3 separate regions of the Homo sapiens genome follow, and all the other regions are linked to region 2. Evidence: fine-mapped expression QTL. A gene starts in region 2. Each other region holds a variant in brackets. All regions are shown on one strand. Distances are from middle to middle.

The links. PIP is the estimated chance that this variant, and not a neighbour inherited with it, causes the effect. A credible set is the group of variants that fine-mapping cannot tell apart.
Region 1: its variant is the best candidate, but not a certain one, in a credible set for the expression of OSTF1 in whole blood (INTERVAL, PIP 0.61).
Region 3: its variant is the best candidate, but not a certain one, in a credible set for the expression of OSTF1 in whole blood (GTEx, PIP 0.73).

The regions. Positions count from the first base shown.
Region 1 is chr9:75,125,239-75,135,864 of GRCh38, reverse strand. OSTF1 (osteoclast stimulating factor 1) reads right to left here. Exons shown (of 10, transcript NM_012383.5): 3 at 8,246-8,296; 4 at 5,224-5,287; 5 at 4,042-4,095; 6 at 2,464-2,571; 7 at 1,470-1,519. Among named protein-coding and RNA genes, the nearest start is that of OSTF1, 42 kb to the right of the region's middle. The variant T/A (reference allele first, on the strand shown) is at 5,841.
Region 2 is chr9:75,083,719-75,093,030 of GRCh38, reverse strand. OSTF1 (osteoclast stimulating factor 1) reads right to left here and starts at 4,517. Exons shown (of 10, transcript NM_012383.5): 1 at 4,305-4,517. The coding sequence starts at 4,338. It overlaps NMRK1 (nicotinamide riboside kinase 1), which reads left to right and starts at 4,876. Exons shown (of 9, transcript NM_017881.3): 1 at 4,876-5,023. RefSeq lists silencers at 4,127-4,216, 4,407-5,006.
Region 3 is chr9:75,147,461-75,156,540 of GRCh38, reverse strand. It overlaps LOC105376090 (a long non-coding RNA gene), which reads right to left and starts at 1,564. Exons shown (of 2, transcript XR_001746731.3): 1 at 1,525-1,564. The variant T/C (reference allele first, on the strand shown) is at 4,603.

The sequences.
Region 1 (10,626 bases), 42 kb before region 2:
CTGAGGGCCTCAGTAATACTACAGTTAGAAGAAAATCAATTCTTCCTACAACCTAAATGCACTTGGAAGAAGACCCCAAGCTCCAGATGAGAATCCAGCTCCAGCCAATCCCTTGATTTCCACCTGGGAGACCCTGAGCAGAGAACGCAGCTATGCCATGCCCAGAATTCTGACGTACAGAAAGTATAAGCTGCTAAGCCTGTGGTCGTTTGCTAGGCAGCAATAGAAAACTAATACAGAACTCTGGGGAATTAAAAAGATAACCAAAATAAAACAAAGGTGAGAATATCTCTGGGAAAAATTAAGAAAACTGAAGGTTCAATCCAAGAAGTCCAACATCCTACTAATGGGCATTCCAGAACCAAAAGAACAAAGAAGGGTCAGATAAAAATTCTAAAAGAAATACAAGATAATTTTCCAGGCTGAAAGAGTTCATCATAATCATTGGGAAGAGATGAATGCTAGCACATCATCATAAAATTTGAAAACACCAACAATAAAGTAAATACTCTTAGCAAGAGAAAAAGCAGATCATACATAAAAGAATGGGAATCAAAATGGCACCAAATCTCTCAAAAGCAACCCTGGAAACAAGAATGCCACAGAGCCATGCCTTCAAAATTCTAAGGGAAACTGTTTTTGACCTAGAATTCTGATCAGCCATATAATCAATCCCAAGCTTCTCTTTCTCAGGAATCTACTTGAAGATGTTCTCTGACAAAAGAAAGACAAGGGATCCAGAAAAATGAAGATGCAACATGGCAGAGAACGGAAGGGGTTCCCTGGAGGACAGCAAAGGGCCACAGGGACCAAGCTGCTCAGACTGGAGAATGATGGAGAGCTTCAGGAAGTAATGAATCCAGGGAGAAAAAAGAAAGCTGTTGATTATCTTACACATTTTGGAAAAGTATTATATATCAAGACTGTATAAAACAGTAGAGAAGTCACAGTGAGATAACAAAAAATGAGTTTTAAAAAGTAAGTACAGAAACAAAAAAAGGTTATATAAGCAGTGAACACTATTTAGACACCCATAATAAAGTAAATATTATATAGTAATATAACCAAAAACTGTGATGAAGTACACTGAGGAGCAGAGGAGAACAGGCTTGGTGCTGGGGTGCTGAAAGATGAGAGCTGGGGCAGCTGACAAGCTTAACCCTTCACATACCCAACAGGAGGCCAAAGTACACATGAAGACAATGCATGGCGAGATAGCTCCGTCAGCCTATTCCTTAGTAACACAAAGGTAAGTACAGGAAGAAAGAGCTAAAAGCTGAAAGTGACATATGAGGAGGAGTGGGTTTGGCACTTGGGGCTGTGGATAATTTGAATTTTAGTACAATTATAATTTTTAAATTATGTGCTTGTGGGATTTTGACTACAATACTTCACATGCCCATGAGTTGCTCTGTACTAAAGACAACAAGCAGGTATGTGTTAAATAATTTTCAAATAAGCAGTCTTACCTGCTGGTTCAGTTCAATATTTGGTTGAGTAAATAGCATTTCCACTATATCTGAAATTCAAAGAGAAAAGATACCTTTTAAGAACGAAAATTAGAAGCCTGACAAATCTAGGTACAATAATTTTATAAAAGAGAGATTCTTCAGAAGAACCTTCAAGAAAATGTTAACACATTTTGTAAAATTTATAAAATAGAAAAACTTAAGAATCTAAAAAGTGGAATTATTTAGGAAAATATACTTTTTCTAATAGTTTTGGCTTTTGCATTTTCATATGACACTTAGAGGAATATTTTTACATTCACTATAATACTTTTCATTCATATAACTAACATGTTTATTAGCTGAAATAAGATAGGCTTCTTTTTAGTAGACAGTTACAAATTTTCCTTTGGCACTGCTATTTAATTTGTTGAGATCTTCATTTCTTATTGTTGTTGAGTTTATTTCTTTTGTTATAGAGAGAGGTAGAAAAGCGGTGGGTGATAAATTTTTGTCCAGGAAGAAATACATCTAAAAATTCAATTTGTCATTATTATTGATTACAACAGAAAAAGTATCAATGGAATCACTAACTTTGGCAAATGTTGGCTTTCTCTTGAATCTAATAGTTTGCATTAAACTTAAAATGCAAATCATAAAAGAAGACCTTGTGAAAAGCTAAGCTAGAGGAGCAAATTCTGATCTTTCCTTCTGTAAGATTAGACAGTGGTTTTGTTTTTATATTACTGCTGTTTTCCAGTAACCTTTCTAAGCCTGAGAGAGGAAAGGAAGTGTCCAGTCTTTCAAGCGAGAGGGACCCATGCAGTGAGGCTGACTGACCACATTCTACCCACTGTTCTACAGAGCTTCCAGGAACAAGGGTTTTGGCCGGTATTCTAAAGGATTCAAAAAGAATAGCCAATGCTTTTCCTTTCTCATTTTTTGTAAATCTGGCTCCCGTAGGTGAAACACATTTTCAGCAGCATAGAAACATATAACAAACAAAATGTAATACCTTTGTGGCCCCCGTGGCAAGCCCAGTATAAGGCAGTGCTTCCAGCTTTGTCTAAGCCATTAACACCCACTCTGTTGTCCAAACACTCTCTCAACCAGCTCAAGTTGCCTGAAAGAATTTTACATTTACAAGAACACAAGAAAAAAAGCTTTCACTTTTTATTTTGCTTTTAAATCAATGTCATTCTGCATAAATTTCCATTTGCAATGGATTAATCAGCAAGTATTAAATTAAGACCTCCCCATTAATGCATTTATTATGGTACATTTTGACTTCCAGCTTATTAATGGAAAGTATTAACATCAATGTTTCTAATGATAAGTTAATGGGAATAGTTGCCCAAATGGGTATACTTAAGGTATTTCTATTCTGTTAAAAAATATATAGGGGTGTGTGTGTGTGTGTGTGTGTGTGTGTGTGTGTGTGTGTATGTGTGTGTATGTGTATATATTATTTTTTTCTTTGTGAAATTCTGGAAATTGAGGAAAAAACAATCAAACCTAAGAACAAGCAGATACTATTCATATTCATATTTAAAATGCATCTTCAGTTCCTATAAGAAAGGCTAAATAACCTACTCAAAGCTGCTGCTCTTATATGCTAAACTATAACTATTAATTTAAAATCCTCAGGCTAATGTCCCAAGTATCTAATTCACAAAGAATTTTTTAAATGTCAGTTTAGTCCTTTTACTTTTTCACAATCCTAACCAATAATTTCCTTGTGTACATTCAGATTTCCAAAAAAATCTAAAAATGGAATGAAATGGAGCTCATTGAGGCTTTACAAAAACTCCCCATTATCTACAGCAGGGTTTCTCAGCAGCAGCCCCATTGGCATTTGGGGTTGGATTTATTGTGGGGGTGCTCCTGTGTGCTGTAGGATGTGTGGCAACAACGCCTGCCTCTCCCCAAAAGATGCCAGTAACATCCCTCCAGTCATGACAGTCAACATGTCTCCAGATATTGCCAAATACCCTCGGGGTTTGTGAAAGAGGAATCACCCCTAGCTGAGGACTACTGATCTACAGAATAAAGCCCAAGACAAGGCTGATCGTTGTTTGGTCAAGGATCTTCCCCAGGTTCATCCCTGTTAGTCATGCCCTCCCTGGCCAAATGCTCACCACACCAACGCTCTCCTAAATGCTGTACCCACCAGACCCTTCCATTCTCTTGCCCTCCAGTTACTCACCTGGGCCTCTACGGCCTGTCAAACACATTTCAATTGCTGTACTTATCATACCATATTTTAATGATCTGTTACATCTCTCTCTCCCCTGCCAGATGTTGTGCTTTGGAAGTCACAGACCATGTCTTTCGACTTGCATCTCCCCACAACAGTGTTTCTTGACTGACATTTTAAAACTAAAATCACACTTCTCTAGGGTAGTAGATGTTGGGACAGACTGTAAGGCAGGGATTTAACTGAGAAGGTGCAAAGGGAACTTTCTAGGATGGCAGAAATGTTCTAGATCTTGATCTGGGTGTTGGTTACGTGGGTGTATGCACTTGTCAAAGCTAATTGAAATCCGTGCCTTTTACTGTACTGCATACCTCAGTCAAAAAGAATCACACCTACCTCTTTTTGCTGCTTCATGCAATGGATTGTCAATGGATTCTGCCTGCTCAGCCACTAGATTGAAAATAAAAAGTGTTAACCCAATGTGGAATTGCCACACAAATGATTTACTGAAGCCACTCATTCACCACAGTCCCCCAGCTTCAGGAGTACCAGGGCATTCAACACAGTTTCCTTTACTTAATGTGGATAAAAAGTAACAGAAAATCAAATGGATAGTTCTTGCATTAAATGAAGCTGAATTATGTGTTTAGGGAAACCAAGCCAAGCAATAAGGCAATAACATAGTAATTAACTGGAAGTATAAACAAAAACAAACAAACCCGCATACCTGAGTTAAATGCACACTTGATATTACTCAAGTATTTAATAAACAAAGTCACAAAAATGCAAAAGGAAGCATTTGATGTTCATTTTTACATTTTGTAGATCACTCTGCTTTAAAGATACCTGAAAATAATTTTGGTTCTCTTGTGTGTATTTATGTAGGATCGGATGAGGGGAGTATTTTGCTTCCTGTATTCAGAAAGAACAATCAGCATAGCTACCTGCCTCTTAAAGAAGGCATGTTCGCTGCTGTCCTAGAATCAGTAGGAAGTGTTATTAGGAAATGGAAGAAAGAGGATTAAAACTCAGGAGCCTTGTTTATCAATTCTGTGCTCTTTTGACTTGATTCTGCTGACAACTAAACAAGTGTTTTATCTGTTTGTCCCACTTCCAGCTTGAAGCAGCTTCATGGCGGGAGCCGTGTCTCTCATCTCTCAAAGTCTCCAAACTGCCATGATAAGCATTTAATGAACATCACTGCCCCAAACATGAATGAACAAGGCCGGGTTACTCCATCACAAAAGAAACGGCTAGTCTAAGAAACTATCTGCAAGATTGAGTTTATCAGCATTAAAAAAAATTGTTTTAAGGGTTGAAGAAAGTAAAACCATAAGTGTTTCCTTGGAAACCTTGGGTTAAGAATGCTAAAATGCATTCTCTTAGGCCACAGAGTCAGGCTCAAGCACATCTGGTGTTCATGGCCAGTTTATTAACAGAAGGCTCATGGAATAGAAAATGTCCTAGACTGACAATGACTCCATTGCTTTCTCAGCCACAGTAGCAAGCAGAAAAGCATCAAGAACCAAAAAATTCCAAGTGAACGAAGCTAAAGTAAAACCACTCAGCAACACTTACCATAGTTGCTTGGAATTAGTCCAGTCCTGCCTTTGGAGGTGCCTTTCCACCAATTGGTATCGCTCTGGTAAAAGAAGAGTTAAATTAAGTGGTATGAAATCCAGACTGCATTCATTCACTTTTCAAATTATCTAGCTCCTAGGGAGTACCTGTTCTACAAAATGTCCATCAACCCTACCCACACTATCAAGCTTCCTCACGCCCTAGCTGTGGGTGTCCGTCTCCCTTACCACTCAGTTACAAATAAACACGCATCTGCCTGCAACAAATGGAATACGTTTCATGACAGAGTCTCAACAACCAAACAAATAAGAGATGACATGAAACAGAAGAAAACAAATTACGCTAGTTTAGACTAGCTATATGATTTTTTGTCCACAGTTTCATTTCTCTTAGCTTTGAGATAATTTTTTTTATGGGGGAGGAAGTTCTAAAGATCTCTTTATATTATCTTCATTTTGGGGGTAACTTGTTATTATAGAAAAATTTAAACTTACAAAAAAGTAGAAAGAACAATGTAATGACCATATATATACCCATTTCCCAACTGCACAAATCATTTATTAATGACCAATATTGTTTCATATATGCCCCCATGACGTCCCTCCCCTCCTGGA[T/A]TATTTTAAAATAAATTCTAGACATCATATTATTTCATTTGTAAATATTTCAGTACGTATCTCTGAAAGACACATACTTTTTGAAAGGCAATTATAATGCCATTATCACAGCTTAAAAGTTTTTTCCAACAATAATTCCTTAATATCATCAAATATCTAGGTCGATACTCAAATTTCCCAACTGCCCCATAATTTGGGACTCAAATAAGGGCTATACAATATGATTGATTTGTCTTTAAGTATCTTTTAATCTATAGGTTGTCTCTCCATTCTTTTTTATCTCTTACAATGTATTTGTTGAAGAATCCAGTTGGTTTGTTCTGTAGTGTCAACCTCTATGGATTTTGCCTGTTGTATCCCTGTGTTATCATTAAGCATGTTCCTCTGTTCCCTGTATTGCCTATAAATTGGTCATCAGTTCTAGAGGTTTAATTAGATTCAGCTCCAATTTTTTTTGGCAAGGCTATTTCCTAGGCAGTATTGATTTCTTCCATTAGGAAATGCAAACTATCTAGTCGGCTTCTTTTTGTAATGTTAGTAGCCCTTGATGATCATTGTCTAGATCCACTATTTCCTAGAGGCTGCAAGATGGTGACATTCTAATTCTATCATTCCTTCTTCATTGAAATAACCTGAATACCTCTTTAAACAAAAACTTCCTCATCAGCTCTCAGATTGCCCAGGTAAGAAATTCATAAAGAAAACACAGAATAAATGGTGATTCTTTCCCTTAACAGTTGTCAGAATAAAAACCTGATTTCCTAGCATTCTCTCATGCTGACCAATGAGATTTCCTCAGAAGTAACATTAGAAACTCATAAATTTAAATGTATTTAATGGGTTTCAATTCTTGGAAGTTGTTGCCCTAATTGATGCTCAAATTGTCCTATCTTTGGCCAGTGGGAGTCTCTTCAAGTTCGTTCCCAAGTCCTTTCAGTGTGACCCTACTGTCTTTAGGAGCTTCCATGTTTTCTAATAAGAGGATGTTCTGGGTTTATCTTGTACCTCTGCTGCCCCTGACTTGGTACCAGCCATTTCTCAAAGAAGCCTGTACATTTCAATGGAAAATAACATATTATTATTGGGTTGGTCATTTTTCCTAGGCCCTTTCAAAGAACACAGCAGGGAATATTTTTGTTTTATTTTAGATAAAATACAATGTGATCCTTGCAATTCAGATGAAGGAATACAGAGTTTTTCTTAAACTGTCATTAATCTTACATCTGTGTATCCTTTTTGCTATGCTGAAAATCCGTTAGCAACATCACCGACCTAATTACTCATTTGCTCTAAACCACAATACACATGCAACAATCTCAGAATTAGCAATACCTACATTTCCCTAACAAGGGCATGATTTAAAACAATTTACCCTTTTTTGGCCATTTCTTTTTGTCCATATATATATATGGACAAAATATATATATATATATATATATATATGGACAAAATATATATATATATATATATATGGACAAAATATATATATATATATATGGACAAAATATATATATATATATATGGACAAAATATATATATATATATATGGACAAAATATATATATATATGGACAAAATATATATATATATGGACAAAATATATATATATATGGACAAAATATATATATATATATATATATATATATATATATATATATATATGTCTTTCATACATATCCATATTCTACTATGGATGTTCAGTCAAATTGCTGAGTTTTAAACTTGGAATATTTCCTCTCTGTGTGGTTAGGCCAATTACCAGGGTACAATTAAGTTCATTTGATTCATTCTGCTTTTAATTTTTAGGGATTGCTTTTTACTTCAATTTTTAACCATGTCAAGGTTTACATCAGTTCAAAGTCAAATCCACAAAACAAGGTATAATTTTCTAAAAAGTCTATCTTCCATCTATGTTCATTATACCCTATTTCTCTCCTTCCACCTAGAGAAAGGATCTTTACTCTTCATAGAATAAAACTAAATTTTACTTTGCAACTCATCTTTCAACTTTTTATCTGAAATTGAGAAAAACAAGTGTCTGCATGTATGTGTGTGTACACATACACTCTCACCCTTTCCTAGAAAACTGAGGATATATTATCTACATTTTCTCACTTTGCTTTTTTTTTCACTTAAATTACTTCATAATAGCATATAGAGATATTCCCCATTTCTTTCTACAGCTGCATAATATTCTGTTTGTGGCTAGACCAAAGCTTATTCAACTCTTTCCCTATTGATGGAAATAAGGGCTATTTTCAATCTTATGCTACTATCAATTGTGCTAAAATGAACAGACTTGTACATATGTATTTCTATGTACATATATATTTAAATAACTTACAATGTTATAGCTACATAAAACAGTCTTTATATGTGGTATTACAAGATGTTATCTGGACTTACCATGTCAGTAATGTAGATAATATCACCTTCCTCAAAGTATAATTCATCTGGCTAGAAGAAAAAAAAAAGTTTGACTCCATGTGATTTTTCATGAATTAGAATATGATTATATAGATTCAAAATTCTATCATATTCTAATAAGCAATGTGGTTTTATACACTTAAATCAGCACATAAGCCATATAATAAAACACTACTGAAAAATTAACACATGAATAGACGGCTAGATTTTTTTCCCATGATGAACTTCAAAGAATTACATATATAAAGATTCTCCACACACATCTTGCATTCTTCTACAACCAAAGCAAGACATTTGTATATCAAAATAGAGTATTAATAAAACTTCTTCCTTGTAGAAATTCTAAAAGGTGGTATACATTTTTTCATAAAAATATAAATGTCTAGAATTAGAGTCATGAAAAACAGCCAGAAGCTTGATTTTCTCTTAAACAAGGCCTCAATCCTTGAACACTTTAAGATCAACATCTGCTATCTGCTCATTTTAAGAAAATCATTATCCTAGCTCTTCATGTTCAGGGAGAATGAACATTTTCTGTATGAGAAAAGTTAATATGTAATTCAACCATTAATAAGGCTAAAGAGCTAAAAGATATGAAGCAGTAACTCAGCCAGTCCAGAAACCCCAAGCAGCTCTAAGGAGTTGGCTAATTACACAGACCATATGTGCTCTGGCCTGTACCAACCAAATGTTCTAAAAACTTTCTGAGGCCAGGTGCGGTGGCTCATGCCTGTAATCCCAGCACTTTGGGAGACCAAGGCAGGTGGTTCACAAGGCCAGCAGTTCAAGACCAGCCTGGCCAAGATGGTGAAACCCCATCTCTACTAAAAATACAAAAATTAGCTGGGCATGGTGGGGGATGCCTGTAATCATAGCTACTCGGGAGGCTGAGGCAGAGAATTTCTTGAACCCGGGAGGCAGAGGTTGCGGTGAGCTGAGATCACGCCACTGCACTCCAGCCTGGGTGACAGAGCGAGACTCCGTCTCAAAAAACAAAACAAAACAAACAAACAAACAAAAACAACCAAAAAACACTTTCTGAATAAAGATACACATTTTAAACATCTTTTGACCATCAGTAGATAACACTTACCATGACTTTGTAAGTAAGTAGGGTGATGCCTACCGAGAGCAAATTTCAGGTGTTAGGAAATGTTTACATCATCATGGTGGATGAAAAATGTAGGACACAAATTTCACATGTGATAAGAACACAACTATGCATTAAATAGACACAAAAATTTCCAAATTCTGTCATGAGCATGTGTTGCTTTCATATTTCAGGTGGGAAAAATACTTTTAAAAGAAAGGCTTTGATATTTCTGATTATAATTACTATTCCATATAAATCAAAATTATGCTAGTGAAACAAATTACTTCATCCAGCCAGGCGTGGTAGCTCATGCCTGCAATTCCTGCACTTTGGGAGGCTGAGGCGGGCAGATCACTTGAGGACAGGCGTTCGAGACCAGCCTGGCCAACATGGTGAAACCCCATCTCTACTAAAAACACACACAAAAAATGTGCCAGGTGTGGTGGTGCACACTTATAATCCCAGCTATTCGGGAGGCTGAGACTTGAGAATCACTTGAACCTGGGAGGCAGAGGTTGCAGTGAGCCAAGATTACGCCATGGCACTCCAGCCTGAGTGACAGAGCAAGACTCTGTCTCAAAAAATTTTTTTAAAAAATGAAATTAAAAATAAAATATTTCATCCATTCATTTTTCCATTTGTTTACCTCCTCTCAGTAGCAGACTAGAGCAGTAAATATGATTCTGCACTAGCAATTTATTTAGTTTTAAAGCTGATCTACATTCTTATTATAACTATTTCTCCATGAATCTAAATGAAGGCTATTATCAGCAATAACATGCTTTAAGCAACCATAATACATGAAAATACTTAGATGCATTATGCATTCAAATATAAAAATTAGCAAATGATGATTATTGATGCCCCCAAATGGCTAAGTCCTTTAAAAGGTAACTTTCTGAAATATATATTGCTTTTACACTTTGATTTGCACAGACTAGTCTTACACATAGCACAAACTATGGAAAATTAGTTATATGTACTAGACCTTGTAATACACATTTTGATATTATTTGAAATAAGTTTTTACTTTTTTTGTTGCTTGAATTTGGGAAAAAAGAAGTTAATGACCACTAATATTCTCTCAAACCTGCCTCAAAAATGTTCTGATGATCGATCAATGACCACTATTACTACCAATATGTGATAGATATAGAAAGTGATTAGGTAAACAAACTATTTCCTTTAGTATTTATTTGAAACAAACTGGATCACTCCCAGAGAGGCCAGAAAGATGATTCTCTCCGCACGCCAGCATCCCAGCTGG
Region 2 (9,312 bases):
GAAAGAGGGTATCATAAAGAATGAGCTGAAGACCACGAAATTGCAACACATCTTAGTAGAGTACCATGGTGGCACAGATAACAGTTAAGGGAGAAAGTTTCAATGACAGACCTTGTGTGGCCAAAAGTGATTCTACAGAAACAAAATCAGTAAGCAAGGAAAGGTCAAACTGCGACAGAATTGATTTTTCAAGCAGAATGCAGGCAATACCGTATAGCCTTTTGGAAACATATGCCAACCAACAGCAAGACTTTTCAAACGGAAGCTGAGACGCTGTTCTGAGGGTAATTGTTTTTATTTTCTTTTTTGAAATGAAATGGATGTGAAGAAGAAAGAAACCTGAAAGAATATTCAACCAAATGTAAATAGTGATTATCAGTAGATGACAGGGATGATTCCTATATTTTAGTTATATATTTATTGTTTACCTTTTTCTAAATTTTCTAAAAATAAAAAAATTATATTTTTACTTACAAGCTTTTTTAAAAAAAACAAAATGAATGAGATCAGCCATCCACTTGTAAATATGGGATACTCTAGGTAATATCTGTAGATACATACGTCTTCCCCATTAGACTCAGGACCCTCGTGAATGACACCATAGATTATTGTTCCTGGGAACCCCAGTGTCTAGCACAGGGCCTAATATATGAGCTACATTTATTAAGAAACATTTGTTTAGCAAATGAATTCTGGATATGGCCAAAAACCCAAACAAGGTAACCCTGATCTATCCTCCAGATGGTACAAAAATGGCCAGGGTCTCCCACTAGCATCTGCCCGGGACTTCCCTGGGCAGCCTCCTTCCACAAATCGGCCCCCTGTTGGGGATGTGCTGATCAGCCAGAAAGATGCTATTAGCCTGCATTATAGCTTAATGTCCCTTGTTTTTAATATCTTCCAGCAAGTCCTTTGTCCTTACTCACCTAGCTCCTTTCCTTTTAGTATTGTCTACTGAATTGAGCCATGCTGTTTTGCCCAAATCTTGCTCTGAAAGAAGCTGTAAGAAACATGGCTAGGATGTTCTGTCTTGTATTTCTGCTAGAGATATCCAGGCCACTCCAATACTTTAAGAGAACCCACAGGAAAATCTGTCTCAGATCTCAATGCCATTAAAATAACTACTTTTCAGAGTAAGTGACACATTTTAATTTTATGAGCACTATGAATCTTGAGATTTTTCTCTCTGCTTGCAGCTGAGAGCCAAATCTACAGTGACCTTACTACACATGCAGGTCTGTCTGTAAGCTAGCTTTTCCTCTTGTTTCATCTTACTATTCTTCCCTTCCTCTAGATGACCATGCTTTATCTTTACTTTTTCCTCTCTCTCAGATCATGTGTATTTTTAGAAGTCCTTTTGGAATGAGGCAAGGTTTAAACAAACCAAAAAATTAAATACAACCCCAAAGCCCCCAATCCCATGCTGTCTTTGGAGATTTTTATCCATGCAGCTTGCCTGCAGGACAAGAAAGTAAAGCTCCACACCACTCTCCTTGCTGTCAACCAGGGGCTGACCTTTATGTGCATTTGTGACAAGAAAGTCTGTAGACCAGAGGCCCCTCCCTTTCGACTTCCTGACCACCAGCTCTAAAATACACATTTGACCGCCAGTGTGAATGGAGCACTATGACTTAAGGCAGAATAGCAAATGGTTAAGAGTGCAGACTTTGGCCAGGCACAGTGATCCCACACTTTGGGAAGCGAAGGAGGGTGGATCACAAGGTCAGGAGTTCAAGACCAGCCTGGATCCTGTCTCTACTAAAAATACAAAAAAAAAATTAGCCGGGCATGGTGGCGGGCTGCCTGTAATCCCAGCTGCTCGGGAGGCTGAGGCAGAGAATTGCTTGATCCCGAGAGGCGGAGGTTGCAGTGAGCCGAGATCGCGCCACTGCACTCCAGCCTGGGCAACAGAGCGAGAGTCTGTCTCAAAAAAAAAAAAAAAAAAAAAAGTGCAGACTTCAAAGCCAGACTACCTGGGTTTTAATACTGCCTGCTACATCCCCCACTCTAACTGTTGACTTTAGACAAGTTAAATAACATTTCTGCGCATCTTTATTTCCCCATCTGTGCAACAGGAACAATATAATGGTACTGATCTCATAAGATTGTTGAGAGCAGCAAATGTGTTAACACGTGTAAAGTGACTATACCATTGCCTAACACACAGTAAATGTGGGACAGTACTACGATAGGACATTTCTGTTTTTGTTTTTTGTACTCTGTTGAGACGGGGTCTTGCTATGTTGCCCAGGCTAGTCTCAAACTCCTAGCCTCAAGCAATCCTCCCACCTCAGCCTCATAAAGTGCTAGGATTACAGGCATGGCCCACTGCTCCTGGCCATCGCTTTTTTTTTTTCTTCAACTAAGCTAGCCCACACAAAGTTTCAACTCTGATTGGCAGTAATGTTTCTCACTGTAAATTACTAAACTGGCAAACCCATTTCTATGGTAACTTTGTGTCTGGATCTCATTTGTAAATTAATGTTGATTCAAAATTCCCTTTATCCTGAATCAAGGACCAGATAAAACAAATTAAAATAAAATAAAATGCAAAGTTCCCTCTAAACACCTGTCATGTTTAACCATAAGCTTTCTGATGTGAAGGAGAAAGGAGGTTCCTGGGAATGTATCCACAATTAGTAACAGGATGACCCTTAAACCCCCAAGTGTGAATGAACCCACATGTATACATTACTGTGTACACACACACACACACACACACACACACACACACACCTGTCAATGTCCCTCCATTTGCAATATAGACAGCATTTAATACGCATGAAGAGATTTTTAAAAAGGGCATTCTTTAACGTATTTCAACTGGCAGCAGGTGATCAGAAAAAAATAAGATAAATAAAATATTGTTTAGCTATCAAAGAACAACTCTGCACTGTTAGATACTTAAGGTCCTGATTTGCACCTGAGTTTAGAAAGCTACCTCATACATATGCACTTAAAATGGAAATTTCTCATCAGATTCCACATCTAATGCAATGCAGAACCCAACTCTAGCTGTGCCCCATCTTTGCCCAGGGCAGAGCCAGTCTCAGCAACTTCCTTCACACTCAGCCCACCAAGATGTCAGTCCTCAGTGAAGCACTATTCCACATACGTACGTACATGATTATCAAATAAAGGGACTTCATACTCCAACTGCAGGAACGCAAAGAAACAAAACTAGATAAGTATGAAAGCTATAGAGTTTAGGAAAATCAAGGAAAAAAGTAATCACTGAAACTCATCTCTTGCAAAGAAAGTTACTTCAAAATTTGACGTAAATGGATTAAATTTCAGCATTTCGCTATACCGAAATTACACTATGGGAAGAAAAAACCCAAGAATACATCGGAGCCATTTATCTTCCATTTCCTGTATTTCCCTTAATTACCTACCCAAATGAATGCACGTAAGAGTTGTTAAAGTATTGAAATACGTCAGTCCTTTCTAATTACCTACCCAAATGAATGAGCGGAACAGTATGTTACAACTTTTAATTAAAATACGTCAGTTTCTTTTACAATTATCTTATTTCTGCATATCACAGAAAATATTCTAAGAACAGAGCAAAAATGAACAAGGACAATCCGCCCAGAAAACTGCTTTGAGGAATTTAGTAATCTCAGCCCTCTCAGGTTTAGCACGCCAACGTCTTTGGGAGAGCAAAGGCAAAGGAGATGATAAAATGACACTTCCAAATAGCAACAGCTGAGATCACTGCCGCATCCTAGATTCTTTCCACCAGGAGCGCGAGTATAGGGTTTTTTTCTAAACGCTCTTCCCAAGATCCCGAGGTCAATTTCAAACGCTGCTCCACGCTTAAGTCCCGAGGGAGGCTCGCTCGCCCACCCCACCCTGCAGGGATTGCACTTCCCGTTCGCTCTGGCCGGTCAGGAACCCTAACTTGACAGTGACAAACACTGAGAAAAGAGGAAGTGGCTAAAGATCATTTCATGACATTTTTTAAAGGGAGATCAATGGCCCTGTCTTTCCGGAAAACTTCCATGGGACGTTGCCATCACACCCTCTGAAAGTTTCAGCGAATGACAACGTAGCAAAAGTGAGGGCTACTCCCCTTTAAATATATATATATATATTAATCCTCGAAATCCTCTTGCTATCAAAATCGATCCCTCCTCCGTAACAGCGAACGCAAAACTAAGAGCGCCCATCCCGGTGGGGCCGATCTCGGAAGCCAGGCTCGGGGCCGGGTGCGCGCCGGGTCCTCCCTGCCAAGCTGCAGAGGAGGCGCCGGCACCGCGGCGGTCGCAGGACCTGGCAAGCGCCTACCTTACCTCCCTCACCTGGTTTGACTGGTTTGGGTGGCGGCTTCGACATCTCGCTTCCTGGAGCTGCAAATCCTAAAGACCCCGCCGAAAAGCCCACCGCTTGCCCGCCACCTGGCACTCCGGGCACCCCAGTTCTTTTTGTCTGGCTTACAACCGTGCGCCTCCTAGGACCGGCGCCCACCCTTGGCTGCGGGAAGAGCGGACGCAGGCAGAGCGGCTCCGCCGAGTGCTCCGCCCCGCCCCGCGGCCGCCGGAGCAGTCCAGAGCGCGCGCCGGGCCGACGAGGAAGTGGACCCCGCCTAGCCGAGCGCTAATTGGCTCCCGGGCTGGCAGCTTCGCCGCAGCAGGAGCGCGGGCGGCGCGCACGGCGGCGGAACCAGCCGGAGCCGAGCGAGGGCGAAGCGGGCGTGCGCCAGTGCAGTGCCGCGGGCCGCGCGCGCTCCCGATAGGGAAGGGCCGGAGCTGCGCAGGGGCGCGCGGAAGAGGCCAAGCTAGCCGGAGCCCCGCCCCGCCCCGCCCCGCCCCAACGGGGGCTGGAACCCGGCGCCGAGAGTAGAGAAAAGGGGCCTCTGGTGACCGCCCCTACCTGGCATCCCTCTAACCCAGGAGGAGCGTGGGGAAAGGGGCTGTGGGCCTCTCGGGGAGCGAGCTGCGGGTAGCGGCGCACTGGGTACAGGCGCGCGCTTGGCTGTCGCCTCTGCCGCTGTGTTTGGGAGGACTCGAACTGGCGCCAGGTGAGTGCGTACCTGCTCGCCCCTGCCGCGCCGCGCCGCCTTGCTGGGGCCTGGAGGTGTTTCCAGAGGGTTTCTGTGCTGGAGCCCGGGACTTGGTTGCGCCCTGAAAGCCTTGCCTGGACTCTTGCCACCCTCACAGAGCTGATAGGTGGCCTGCCGAGGAGGACGTGTACTCATGGTGGCGTGGTGCTCTAGCGCCCCGGAATAATCCTGAAAATGGGAACGCTGCCTCCAAGAGACCGCGCAGCCTGGAGAAGTCGCCAGGGACAGGATCAGGACTTGATCCTCGCGGATCGATATGGTCTCATTCCTCTAGCGTTGGGGTGATGACCTACTGCCCGCCTGCTGCCTGTTACTGTAAGGCCTGCTAAGAATTTTTTTTTTTTTTACTTTTTTTAATGACTGAAAAGAAATAAAAAGAAATATAATACTTTGTGACACGTGAAAATTACATGAAATTACGATTTCAGTGTCCGTAAAATTTTACTGGAACACGGTCACGCTCATTTGCATCTGTGTTTTCTGTGGCCGCTTTCGCATTACCCAGCAGGGTTGAGTAGCAGCTGGCAAAGCCCAAAGCATTTCCTGTCTGGCACTTTACAGAAAAAGTTTTCCTACCCCTGATCTATCGGATTGAATCTTCGGTGGGAGGAAAGAACTGGAGCACACAAGGAAGCCAATGGCATAAGTTCAAAATAACAGTCAATATTGTAAATTAATTGTATATTTGGGGAAAGAAAAAACTGTTTACCTAAGAACCTACATAAATGAAACCAATGGGGGAGGGGCATGAATTGCGTTTTCAAAAACCCCAGCCCTTCACGTCTGTAATCCCAGCACTTTGGGAGGGCAAGGCGGGTGGATCACGAGGTCAAGAGATCAAGACCATCTTGGCCAACCTGGTGAAACCCGATCTCTACTAAAACTGCAAAAAATTAGCCGGGCGTGGTGGCAGACGCCTGTAGTCCCAGCTACTCGGGAGGCTGGGGCAGGAGAATCACTTGAACCCAGAAGGCGGAGGTTGCAGTAAGCCGAGATTGCGCCACTGCACTCCAGCCTGGCAACAGAGCGAGACTCTGTCTTAAAAAAAAAAAAAAAACCCAGCCTTGAGGGATTTGTTTACCAAAAGGGAGCAAAGTTTAAACAATAGTAGGAAAAGACTGCCCTATCTCCTGGAAGAAGAGAATCAAAATAGCTGTTGGATAGAATACAGAGTAAGAAGTCCTGGAAACATTTTTCTCTTTTTAAAATATCAGACTGTCCTGTAGATACATTTGAAGAGCACATTTAGCTTTGTCAGCTGTCTTTCAGATCATTTGCGTTAGAGAGCTGCGTTAGAGAGTTCGTACAATCTGCTGATTCTGCACATGCCACTTCTGACCATTCTGCAGTTTAGAATCCAAAAGGCAAGTGTTTAGTAGTGAAATGAATTAAGCATAATAAACACACCTGAATTATTTTAAAAAACCCAACATTTTACTTAGGGTTAAAAAAAAGTGTAAAAAATAAAATTAGTCATTTCAGGTTTGCTCTTGGCTATCCTAGTTTGTTCTCCTGCTATGCAAAAGCTCTCCGCTGTTGAGGAAAGCCTTGCACGCACTGGGAAAATAAACTACACAGATATTCCATGAGATTGAAGGTGGTGTGGATTCTAGTGATAGACGTGCCCTGAAATGATGACTCTTTGGACACATCACATGATTTACAGTTTGTACGAAGCTTGCATTTGCTTCATGAAGCCTGGCAACTCAATTGCGAGCTTTTTAAATTTGATTTTTTGTTTTGTTTTTGGTTTTATGGGAGGCAGTTTTTGGGTTGTTTTTTGCCTGTTTGTTTTGGTTTTTTTCAAGATAGGGTCTCGCTGTGTCACCAAGGCTGCAATGCAGTGGCACAGTCATGGCTCACTGCAGCCTTGGTGATTTTTTTTATAGGGGCAACAGGCAATGAAATAGTAGAATGTGATGTGGAGGTGGACAGTGCCAGGCCTGAACTTGGAGCTCCCCTAAAGCTGCCCTGTGCATCCACACTGTTTTTGAAATAAATGCCTTCAGGGATTGCTAGGCCCACCCCCCACCCCGCCCTAGTCACTTAGCCCAGTTGCCTCTCTTGTCTCTGCATGTTCCAGTTACCCACCCTTCCCATCACATTGTCACTTGCTCATAGCTGATAGGGTATGCCCAGCATTTACCCAAACACTGGCTTGGACAGGCCCAGACTGCTAACTAATGTAGAACTGGGAGTTCCTGTTTTGGTTAAAAAAAAAAAAAAAAAAAAAAAAAAACTTACATTTGACTGTATCTGAGAGATTTTATAAGTAGGTTTTTTATGCCATCTTACTCCTGGTTCCTGAATGCAAGTAACCCCCTCAAGCCTATTTCCCATGCCACAACCATGCTCACTTGTTATTTACATGCCATGTAATTGATGCAATGGTCACACGTGTAACCACAGATGTGGCAGTTTAGGACGGGGACCAGTAGTCCTTTCCATTCTGTGTGCACAGCAAATAGATGCCCCATCAATAATACATCAGTAAGAATGACATCAATTATACATCAGAGCCTGACAATTAAGCTAGCACATACCTAACACCCTTTCTTTGCTGTTAGTAATAAAGTGCTTTTTAGCAGCTTGGAGTGATAGAAAGAAGTCAGCTCAATTGGTTTAGTTTAATATCTGGCTTTTCCACTTACTGTCTGTGTGACCTTAGGCAAATTGCTCTATTGTCTGAGCCAGTTTCCACTTATGCAAAATGAAGGGGTAGACCAAGTAATCGCTAAAGCTATACTTCTCCAAGTTTGAGAATTTATGCTTCAGCGAGCTATCCAAAAATAATGGGGGCAAGGAATGACAAGGTTTTATGAATTTTTATTTTATTTGGTAAAGTGAGGATATCACTCTACTAACATCTTCTGACAACATAGTTTTGTAAGAGAAAGAACATTTATCACCACAAAAGTGAGATAAAGAGCAGCCTCTCCCTTCCCAAAAAAAGGCTAATTGGCAGCATTGAACCGACATACCAAAAAAATAAGAATAGGGTAAAATAAAATTCAAAAGCAGAAAAATTACAACATAAAAATGTATTTTACAATATTCATTGTATGCAGTCATTCCCTCGATACATCTTGTAAATTTGGATGGAGATGTGTATTCAACAACATAACTCTGGATGAAACTTAAATATGCAACTTGTCTGCTATTTTATTTTATTTTTTAAGACAGGGCCTCACTCTGCCACCCAGGCTGGAGTGCAGCGGCTCAATCTCCACTCACTGCTACCCCCACCTTGTAGGCTCAAGCAATCCTCCCACCTCAGCCTCCGAAGTAGCTGGGACTACAGGAGCATGCCACCATGCCTGGATAATCTTTTGTATTTTTGGTAGAGGTAGCGTTTTGCCATGTTGCCCAGGCTGGTCTCAACCTCCTGAGCTCAAGCAATCCGCCTGCCTTGGCCTCCCAAAGTGCTGGGATTATAGGCATGAGCCACAGTGCCCTGCTGCTATTTTATCACAGTCATTATTGATTCTTGTCTCACATAGACTTGTTAATGGAAGTGGACCCCAGTCTTAAGCAATTGTACTCAATGTGGGATATTTAGATAAGCCAAGAAGTCAGACAACAATAGCCCTCTTCCCACCAGGCTTTTTTCTGCATAACCCCTCCCCAGGGAGAGTGTGGACACAGATCATAGAAACTGGAGCATTGCTGGGAGCCTCCAGCTTGGCAGGCAGCCGCTTGCCCCTGGCTACACGGCCTAGGTCCCTGGCAACCCCCCTGAGCAGATAGGAAGGAAGAAGAGTGGCCTTCAGGGATGACCTTCAGGAGCCACTATTCTAAGATTCCCTCCAGCTGTGCTTCACCTTTTCACTTAGTGAGAAAAATGGCCCATTGTAATAACCAAGGACTACTTTAGTGAACGTTAGGGAGGCATGTATGAAACTGCCCTCCATCCCCTAAACCAAAAATCCACAAAACAGTGGCCGGTGGCTTAACTTGGCCCTCTGCCTGAACATTTGCAGTTTCATGTAGAAAGCACAACAGAAATCCAATTAAGAGAAATGATAGCCCAATAAAAGGGAATTTCATTCTTGTCATTAGTAGACCTGTTAAAAAAATTATGATTATATGTTGAATTTCATCAAAAAAAATTGTGAAAATGTTTTTTCTCTTGTTATATAAGTCCATACATAACAACCTAGATTTTGCCTCTTGGCCCACATAGTGTCAAATATTTACTGTCTGGCCTGTTTCCAAAAAAAATGTACCTAGCCAGGCCCAAGACCTAG
Region 3 (9,080 bases), 64 kb before region 2:
CCTGAACCTGGGTAATTTACAAAGAAAAGGAATTTGTTTTTTAAAGTTATGGAATTTGGCCGGGCGCAGTGACTCACGTCTGTAACCCCAGCACTTTGGGAGGCTGAGGCAGGTGGATCACTTGAGGTCAGGAGTTCGAGACCAGCCTGGCCAATATGGTAAAACCCTGTCTCTACTAAAAACACAAAAATTTAGCTGGGCGTGGTGGCATGCACCTGTAATCCCAGCTACTTGGGAGGCTGAGGCAGGAGAATTGCCTGAGCCTGGGAGGCAGAGGTTGCAGCAAGCCGAGATCACGCCATTGCACTGCAGCCTGGGCAAGAAGAGCAAAACTTCGTCTCAAAAATAAATAAAATAAAATAGTTATGGACCTAAGAAGTCTAGCTTCAAGGGGCCTCATTTGGAGAAAGCCTTCTTGCTGGTGGGAACTCTCTGCAGAGAACTGAGGTGGCATGGGGCATCACATGTAAGGGGGCTTAGCATGCTGGCTCAGGTCTTTCTCTTCTTTTGAAGCCACCAGTATGACTCCCATGATAATTAATTGACCTATTAATGGATTAATGTATTCATGAGGGCAGAGCCCTCAAGACCCAATCACTTGTTAAACATCCCATCTTTCAAGACTGTCACATTGGGGATTAAGTTTCAACACGAATTTTGTAGGGGACAAACATTCAAATCACAGCAGAAGTGATGCAACAAAAAGGGCCTAGAGGTAGAAAGCATGCTTAAACAGAAGACAAGGAATGTGGAAAGAGCCTGAGCTAGGGTGCTGGCCATGTAACCTGGCACGGCCTTCCAGGCAGCTGGATACACACTTGGGCCCCCCTCCCACCTCAGGTTGTACCGCCTTTCCCGGCAGAATCGATGTACACCTTACATGTATTTGATTGATGTCTGTTTGTAACTTCTGTCTCCCTAAAATATATAAAATCAAGCTATAACCCATCCACCCTGGGCACATGTTCTCAGGACTTAAGACTGTGTCTCAGGACTTGGTCACTCATATTTGGCTCAGAATAAATACCTTCAAATATTTTACAGAGTTTGACTCTTTTTCATGAGCAATCTGCTAAGAGGGAGAATAGCAGAGGCTACACCTGGGCCTTTTGTTCCACAGCAAGAGGTTTGAATCTTTATTCAAACTTAAAAGTATTTTAAGTTCTAGAAATTGTTCTAGATTCTTTTAGAGATTAGAGATTGTCCTAGAGTTGTATAATAATGTGAATAGTTAACAGTTGAACTTTACTCTTAAAAAACGGTTAATATAAATTTGACATTGTGTTCATTTCCAGAATTAAAAATTAAATATAAAAAAATTAGACAGTAATGATGATTATACAACTCTGTGAATACACTGCAAACCACTGAATTGTATATGTTAAATGGATAAAATATATGGCATGCAAATTATATCTCAATAAAGTGGCTTTAAAATTTTTTTAAAGTATGGGAAACTGCATGACATAATTTTTTAAATATCAAATAATAAACAATCCCTTGACCGGGCATGGTGGCTCACACCGGTAATCCCAGCACTTTGGGAGGCGGAGACTGGCAGATCTCTTGAGCTCAGAAGTTCGAGACCAGCCTGGCCAACATGGTGAAACCCCATATCTGTAAAACAAACAAACAAAAATATACAAAATTAGCTGGGTGTGGTGGTGCGCACCCATAGTCCGAGCTACTCAGGAGGCTGAGGCAGGAGAATCGCTTGAACCCAGGAGGCAGAGGTTGCAGTGAGCCGAGATCATGCCACTGCACTCCAGCCTGGGCAACAGAGTGAGACTCTGTCTCAATCAATCAATCAATCAATCAGTCAATCAACAATCCCTCAAATCACAATTTAAAACTCCTTATTGAGGTGGAAATAAGGAAAGAATTTTCATAGATTTTATAAAATAAAGAATAAGAAAATAATACATGATAATTTCTTAAGTATTGGCTTCTTTCATAATAAAGAAATTATGTTGAAAAAAATGAAAATGACATATACAGAATAAAGTAAGTTTATCACATAGCTTGTAGTAACAAGGAAAATGAAACAGTACTGGATGTACATTGTTACAGTTTTAGTATTAAACCACAATCAACATGCAACAGAGGAGACCCACAAAGGAATGTGAACGCAATGAAACTTTTATTGTGTATCATTATGAATTATGTAAAACTATTATCAACAGCACAATAAAAAATGCATGCAAGCCATTAAAATAAGCAAAGCATATCAACAAAGATTGAGGACATGAAATGGCCTTGTGTTCTCATTCAGTTGAAGTAATTACAAATTTTACTGGGCTCTTGGTTAAAAAGGAAACATAGTCGCCACAAGTATTTACTGAAACATTACCTATTTGCCTATTTATGATGATTTCATTCTTAAGATTCCTCAGTGGATCTAAAGGACAATGCTGCTACTAAACAAAGCCGTCCAATACATTTATTCTTATTCTCCAACTTTAAAAGGAAGCATCTTAAACATGAAAGTGCTATTCACTGCTGATAGATGAAATAAAGAAAAAGCAGAGTGAACATTGATATTCTGTAATAGGACAGACTCCACGGGATTGAGTGATCTTGTTATTGTAGTAACTAAGAGACCATAAAAATCAGGACACAAGACATTCAACTCCTGTTTATCTAGGAGAGGTAACAGGGGACGGCCAAAAAACATGGGATTATAAACTCTACAATGGCATTTTGGTTGGCATTTCAATTTCTTCTCATATTTGCCACATTAAATCAGAAGATAAAAGGTTTTTTTTTGTTTGTTTTGTCTTTTGTTTTTTTTTTGAGATGGAGTTTCGCTCTTGTTGCCCAGGCTGGAGTGCAACAGCGCGATCATGGCTCGCCACAACCTCCGCCTCCTGGGTTCAAGCGATTCTCCTGCCTTGGCCTCCCGAGTAGCTGGGATTACAGGCATATGTCACCATGCCCGGCTAATTTTGTATTTTTAGTAGAGACGGGGTTTCTCCATGTTGGTCAGGCTGGTCTCCAACTCCCGACCTCAGGTGATCCGCCCGCCTCGGCCTCCCAAAGTCCTAGGATTACAGGCATGAGCCACCATGCCTGGCCTCAGAAGATAAAAGTTAAAAAAAAAAAAATAGTTGATTTAATCAGGCCCTTTCCATTCCCCTGTGTGTGGCTAAAATGGAATTAAAGAAAAGGAAGGAGGAGAGTGCTGAATATAGAGTACCTGGAAAATTGACTCAAGGAAAACATGCCCACAGTGGGAAAATGGTCTCACGCAGTAATACAATCTAGAAGGAAATACCCATGGCAACCATCTCAGACCCCTTGCTTCCAATTCCTCACTTGCTGGTCAGCTCTTGTACTGACTTATGTTTCTCATAGCAAGTCACTTCCAGGCCTCAGGCTCCAGCTATTAAAAAGGGGATGGGTGTAAGGCACTGGACTGGACATCTAAGGACTGTTTAAAGACAATATGGAAGAACAATTCTCATATGAGCAGTTATAGTTTTCCTGCTGAGATTTCCTAGCAAGGAATAATTGCTTAGTAGTTAGAACTAGCAGTAGCAGTTTCAGTTTCAACACCAGAGGAAAATAAATACATTAATAAATAGTAGTGGTAGTGGTAATAATTAATGAATTCACATAGCAGTATACAAGACACTATTGCTAACTAAAAATGAGAAATGGGGAGAGAGAGAGCTGATAAGGCATGATTTCCCATTTTCAAAAACAGAAGAAAGGCATTCACAAACGTCATACAGTATCTATATATGGTGGCTAAAACATAAACAGTCTGTGAAATGCAATGGCTCATAGAAGAGCAAGACTCCCAGCATTGCCCAGAGCAGGTCTAAAGATCCAGTGAACACCTCCACCACACCAGACCACACTCACATACTCAGCTGTGCCCTCAAGTGCTCTTTCATCCTGAGACCAACCACCTGAGCCCCAGATCTGAGATTAAGCACAGGGGTTTGTCACGCGTTCTGATGCAGATGAGGCGTACCACACCCTGGAAAGTTGACACAACCACCACAGAGGGTTAAGCTGTGACCCGAAGCTCAAAAATCAGGTCCTGGTCGAAGACCTCTAAGAAACTGATGCAGCAATGATAACTTGCTTCACACAAGGAGGAGCTGGTATCACCTGATCCTAATTTTGGGCATATCATGTGGACCAAGGGACCTGGTCAATGTCACAGGCTCAGGATGACAGAGGACTGCATGCCAGCTTTCCCTGAACCCTGCTGTCAGGGTGGCATGCCCTCTCTGAGAGCTTTCAGGGCCATGAATCTCTCCAAAGCCATTTCTAGTTTCAGTCAATGACCAGCTTTGTGTGACTCTTCAAGCCAACCTGTGTCCAAACAGGCATCACATCCACATCTCATACTCACTGTTGGCATGAAGCATTTTCTTGTGGCCTCAGGAATTCACCTTCTGAAATGGGTAATAACAAAATATGCAATTTAGTTCTTTTTTGTTCACCTTGTTCAAAGTTAATATGATTGTATGATACTTTAAAGTGTCTTCAATTCTCTTTTTGTCATTGAAGCTGTGAGACTAAATTCTTGAAGTTTAGACTTTATAGGGGAACCTATGAAGGTGCAAAGTCTATTCATTTGAATAATAG[T/C]ATTGTCTGAATTTTGAAGTCATGTAAGAGCAGGATAGTAACACCAAACACCTTTCTGATTTCAAATCATCATGTATCAAACATCAGACCCACGGTCTATCAAGCCCATCAAACCACTTGAAAGCAACAGGATAAAACTGAAACAGTGGCAGAGACAATCTCCCTACTTCATCTTTGAATTACTGTAACAGTAATAACCAGGTCTTTTCCAGTTATATATCTCTTCTCTGTAACTCAAATAAAGTACATTTATATTGAAAAACTCGGCCGGGCACAGTGGCTCACGCCTGTAATCCCAGCACTTTGGGAGGCCAAGGCGGGTGGATAACTTGAGGTCAGGAGTTCGAGACCAGCCTGACTAACATGGTGAAACCCTGTCTCTACTAAAAATACAAAACTTAGCCAGGCGTGATGGTGCACACCTGTAGTCCTGGCTACTCGGGAGGCTGAGGCAGGAGAATTGCTTGAACCTGGGAGGCGGAAGTTGCAGTGAGCTGAGATCGCATCACTGCAGTCCAGCCTAGCAACAGAATAAGACTCCATCTCAAAAAAAAAAAAAAAAAAAGAAGAAGAAAAAGAAAAACTCTACTACCACATATGAAGAAACCTAAATGACTGGAAGGCAACATCATTGTCCTCCACTCATTTTTAAAGTATTTTAGGAAATTCTGCTCTTCAATATTGGTGGTGAAACTGAAAAACGTGTTGACACACTCCTTTGTATAACACACATATCTGGTTTTAATGCAGACTTCCCTGTTCATGGTTATACCCAACATTAACTGAGCAACTGCTCAGTAGTAGAGTTTTTCAGGAACTAAGTCATTTGCATATATGATTTTATTTAATCCTTCTAACTCTAGGCAGTAGATACTACCACTTCCTCCACTGCACAGCTAGGGAATCTGGGTGTTTAGGTAACCTGTCGCAGGTCACTCAGCAGAATCAGGCTTGAATCCAGACAGTGTGATTCCAAAGCCCATACCCCTCACCACTTCTCGAAGCATTCTACTAATTTCTGTCAGAACTATGGGTCATTTAGAAAAGGTAACCATTTTTCCTTTGAGGCTCAGCCTCTTCACTCCTTGTCTATTCCTTCCACTTTCCTTCCTGCTTCCTGTCAGGCTGTCTAATGTATACCTTTGGATTTCCTCAGTGTTCTTTTCCGGGCACCGCGAGGAACCTGGCCTCCCTGTGGCTCCCAGTTGCCCACAGGGCTGAGCCTGCTGGGAAACCCAAGCCGCTGGCCACTGGCGACAGACACAGCAGCACTGCCTGGGAATTGTGAAGTTACTTACCTCCATGTACACATCGAGCTCCCAGACTCAGGTAAGACCACATCCCCTGACCCTTCCAAGGGATGCATTTATTTTCATGGTTACACAGAAGTGAGGAGCTCTCAGACTCTCTGAGAGAACTGCTGAACTTAGCAATGTAAACTCAAAGCAAAATGAATAGGTGCTGATCTAAGCTTTCCTTCTCTTATACTTACTCATACTCTAATGTGTACAGAGTAGGAAATTTTGGAAACTTGGGAGTAAAACCTGCTTCATTAAATATTTCTTTAGGGTTACTGGGAACTAAAAGTTTGGTGAAAATTTCTCTGGAAGCGCTTAGGGTCATTTTAAATAAATTATGAATTGATTAGCAGATATGCTGAATTTGTTAGATGCCTATATCAAGGGCTTCCGTTGGAAAGAAGCTGTCCTGTTTCTGCAGATTTTTCTGAGAGAATGTGAATGATGACATCTGACTGTTGCAGCAGGCAATAGCGCGTGGGTTCCCCAGACCCGTGTGTCCACCTTCAACCAGTTCCTTCACTTCTTCAAACCTCAGCGTCTCTGTAAAAAGTTGGGGCATTAACATTCCTCGCCTAAGGTTACTGCAAAGATCAAATGACATCATGTCTGTGAAAATGTCTCGCACAGGCACTGGAAGAGTAGACATTTCATAAATGGTAGTTTTATTTAATTTCATGTCATTTTAAGGGAGGGGCAGATGTAAAAGCTTGTTATTGAGAAATAAGGAAACAGAAGCCACAAATTTGTGGTCTGCAATTTTTCCTTCACATGAGAAAACTGTTCACCAAAGCTATATTTGCAAACAGGAATACCAGAATCTTTTACAATATTTCTCCCACTAAAACCTCAACTTTTAGTAATTGGACACTTCAAAGTTTGGCTATACAATCTTTTCCTGCAATATACATATTTACAATATAAAAATCAAGACAAAAAATACACAGTCTGAGTCAATAGGGAAGGCAGATAATCAGATGTAAATGTTAGGTTCCACAGCCTATCAGAAAAGAAATCATCATTTACAAAGATGATAAATATAGTGCTCACAATAAGAAAATTAGTAAATCAGAAACTCTACACAATAAAAAACATTTATGAAGAAGGCTTATGTGGAAAAATTACATTTCCATCTTTAAAATTATCTGCAAATTACCTAAAATTTCGTTTTCAGCATTATTTCCTTTTTTTTTTTTTTTTTTTTTTTTTGAGATGGAGTCTGTCTCCATTGCCCAGGCTGGAGTGCAATGGCGCAATCTTCGTTCACTGCAACCTCCGCCTCCCGGGTTCAAGCGATTCTCCTGCCTTAGCCTCCCAAGTAGTTGGGATTACAGGCACCCGCCACCATGCCCAGCTAGTTTTTTTTTTTTTTTTTTTTTTTCCTAGTAGAGACAGGGTTTCACCATGTTGGCCAGGCTGGTCTCAAACTCCTGACCTCAGGTGATCCTCCCGCCTCGGCCTCCCAAAGTGCTGGGATTACAGGCGTGAGCCACCGTGCCTGGCCTATTTCCAGTTTTTTTTTTTTAAGATTAATAAAATGGAGTCGCCATTGCTTTGTTCAACATTTCCCTTTGAGTAATAACATAATTAATCTACTGAAAAGAGGAGCCATGGGGGCTTATAAAGAAATGCTGTAATACATGTCAGCCCAACAACAACAAAATGTGCAACAGAACAGCCCAGAAAGAAAACTGAAATGGGAACCTCTGATAAGAATTTTTCTTTGCATGAGGCTCCTGGGCCTACAACTAAACAAGTATCGCACTGCCCAAGTAGCTGGAAGGCATTTCCTATTTAAAGGGTGCAATCACTAGAAAGGAGTTCAGGCCACAGTGACTGTCAGCAAGCTCAGATTACAGCAAAACCTCTGAAGTTATTTCCAAAACATAATCAGAGCTCTCCTCTGCACAGTCAGAGCAGTGGCAAATTCCTAGAACTGATTTTTGTTGCTGAGTTCAGCACTAAACAATCTCTGAGAAAGCTCAGATTAGCCAGGCTGAATAAACAAGAAACAAACCAAAAAAATTTCCAGTGGAGTTTCAGCCACAACTAAATGAGTTGTCCTGTTTTACCAAAAATTCATGCACATAGCTAAGCACTCTCCTCATCTTCAAAAAAAAACTATAGTTGTCCAACTTTCTAAAATTCTCTTAAGTTTGATAATGTTAAAAACAATGATAGTGAGACCTCCACTATTCTTTCCCTCAGATATACAAATAATATATCTAAAGCAAGTACATGGTATTTTGATAAAAATTGTCTATAGCCACACAAGCTGTATTATTTCTGCCCATGTTTTAAAAATTAAGAGTCTTTAGTTGAAATCCATCCTAATTACCCCAGCCCAAAGTATAGAAGAACAAAAAGTTACAGGGTTCTCTAAAAGCTTTTTGTTAAGAAACAAGCCCCATTTTAAAGAAAAATCTTAAAGGATCTATAGGAATAGATACAATTTCAGGAAGAATTTCATATCTTCAAGTTTATGTTTAAGAAGAAATACAACTGGTTAAATCAAATTTAATAACGTATTTATTTTAAGAATAAAATGCCCTCTTTTGTTGGTGCCAGAATTTGTGTTCATACTTTGTTGTCACTAGTGGTACAGATTCTCTTCTACTAAAATTTAGTTGAGGGTGTTTGAAAGACCTCAAATGGGCTTCTCTGGGTATCGTTTCTCAAGGCTCCCACAGAGTGAAAAACCAAACAGTCACAGAATAAACTCTTATAGAGGCAGTTATTCATTTCCTGAGCTAACCCACTTCCTTCTTCATACATTTCCTTCTCTTCATCAACGTGTTTTTTGAAATTAGCATTGAAATCATCTTGCAAAATATACTTTTGGACCTAGGGCCGGGATTCTAGGCAAATTCCAATGGCCATGTCATTTTTACATCATCACTGTAGTGATACAAAATTAGAACGCCAAATGAAGTGTCATGTCAGTAGTACAGAAGGCTCCCTGCAATGCTAATTGTGTTTCAGCAAAAGAATCTGAATCATTATGAACTAGATCCATACTGTGAGAAAACAAATGTTATTAAAAAAACTGAATGCAAAAAATTTCATGGTTCCTGACTACTCCATATGGAAAAGTATGGCATCTATCATAAGGAAATAAATTTTTTTAACCTTTCAAATCTTAGCGAAACTGTAATGAGTTGTTGGGTTTCTCCACTCTAA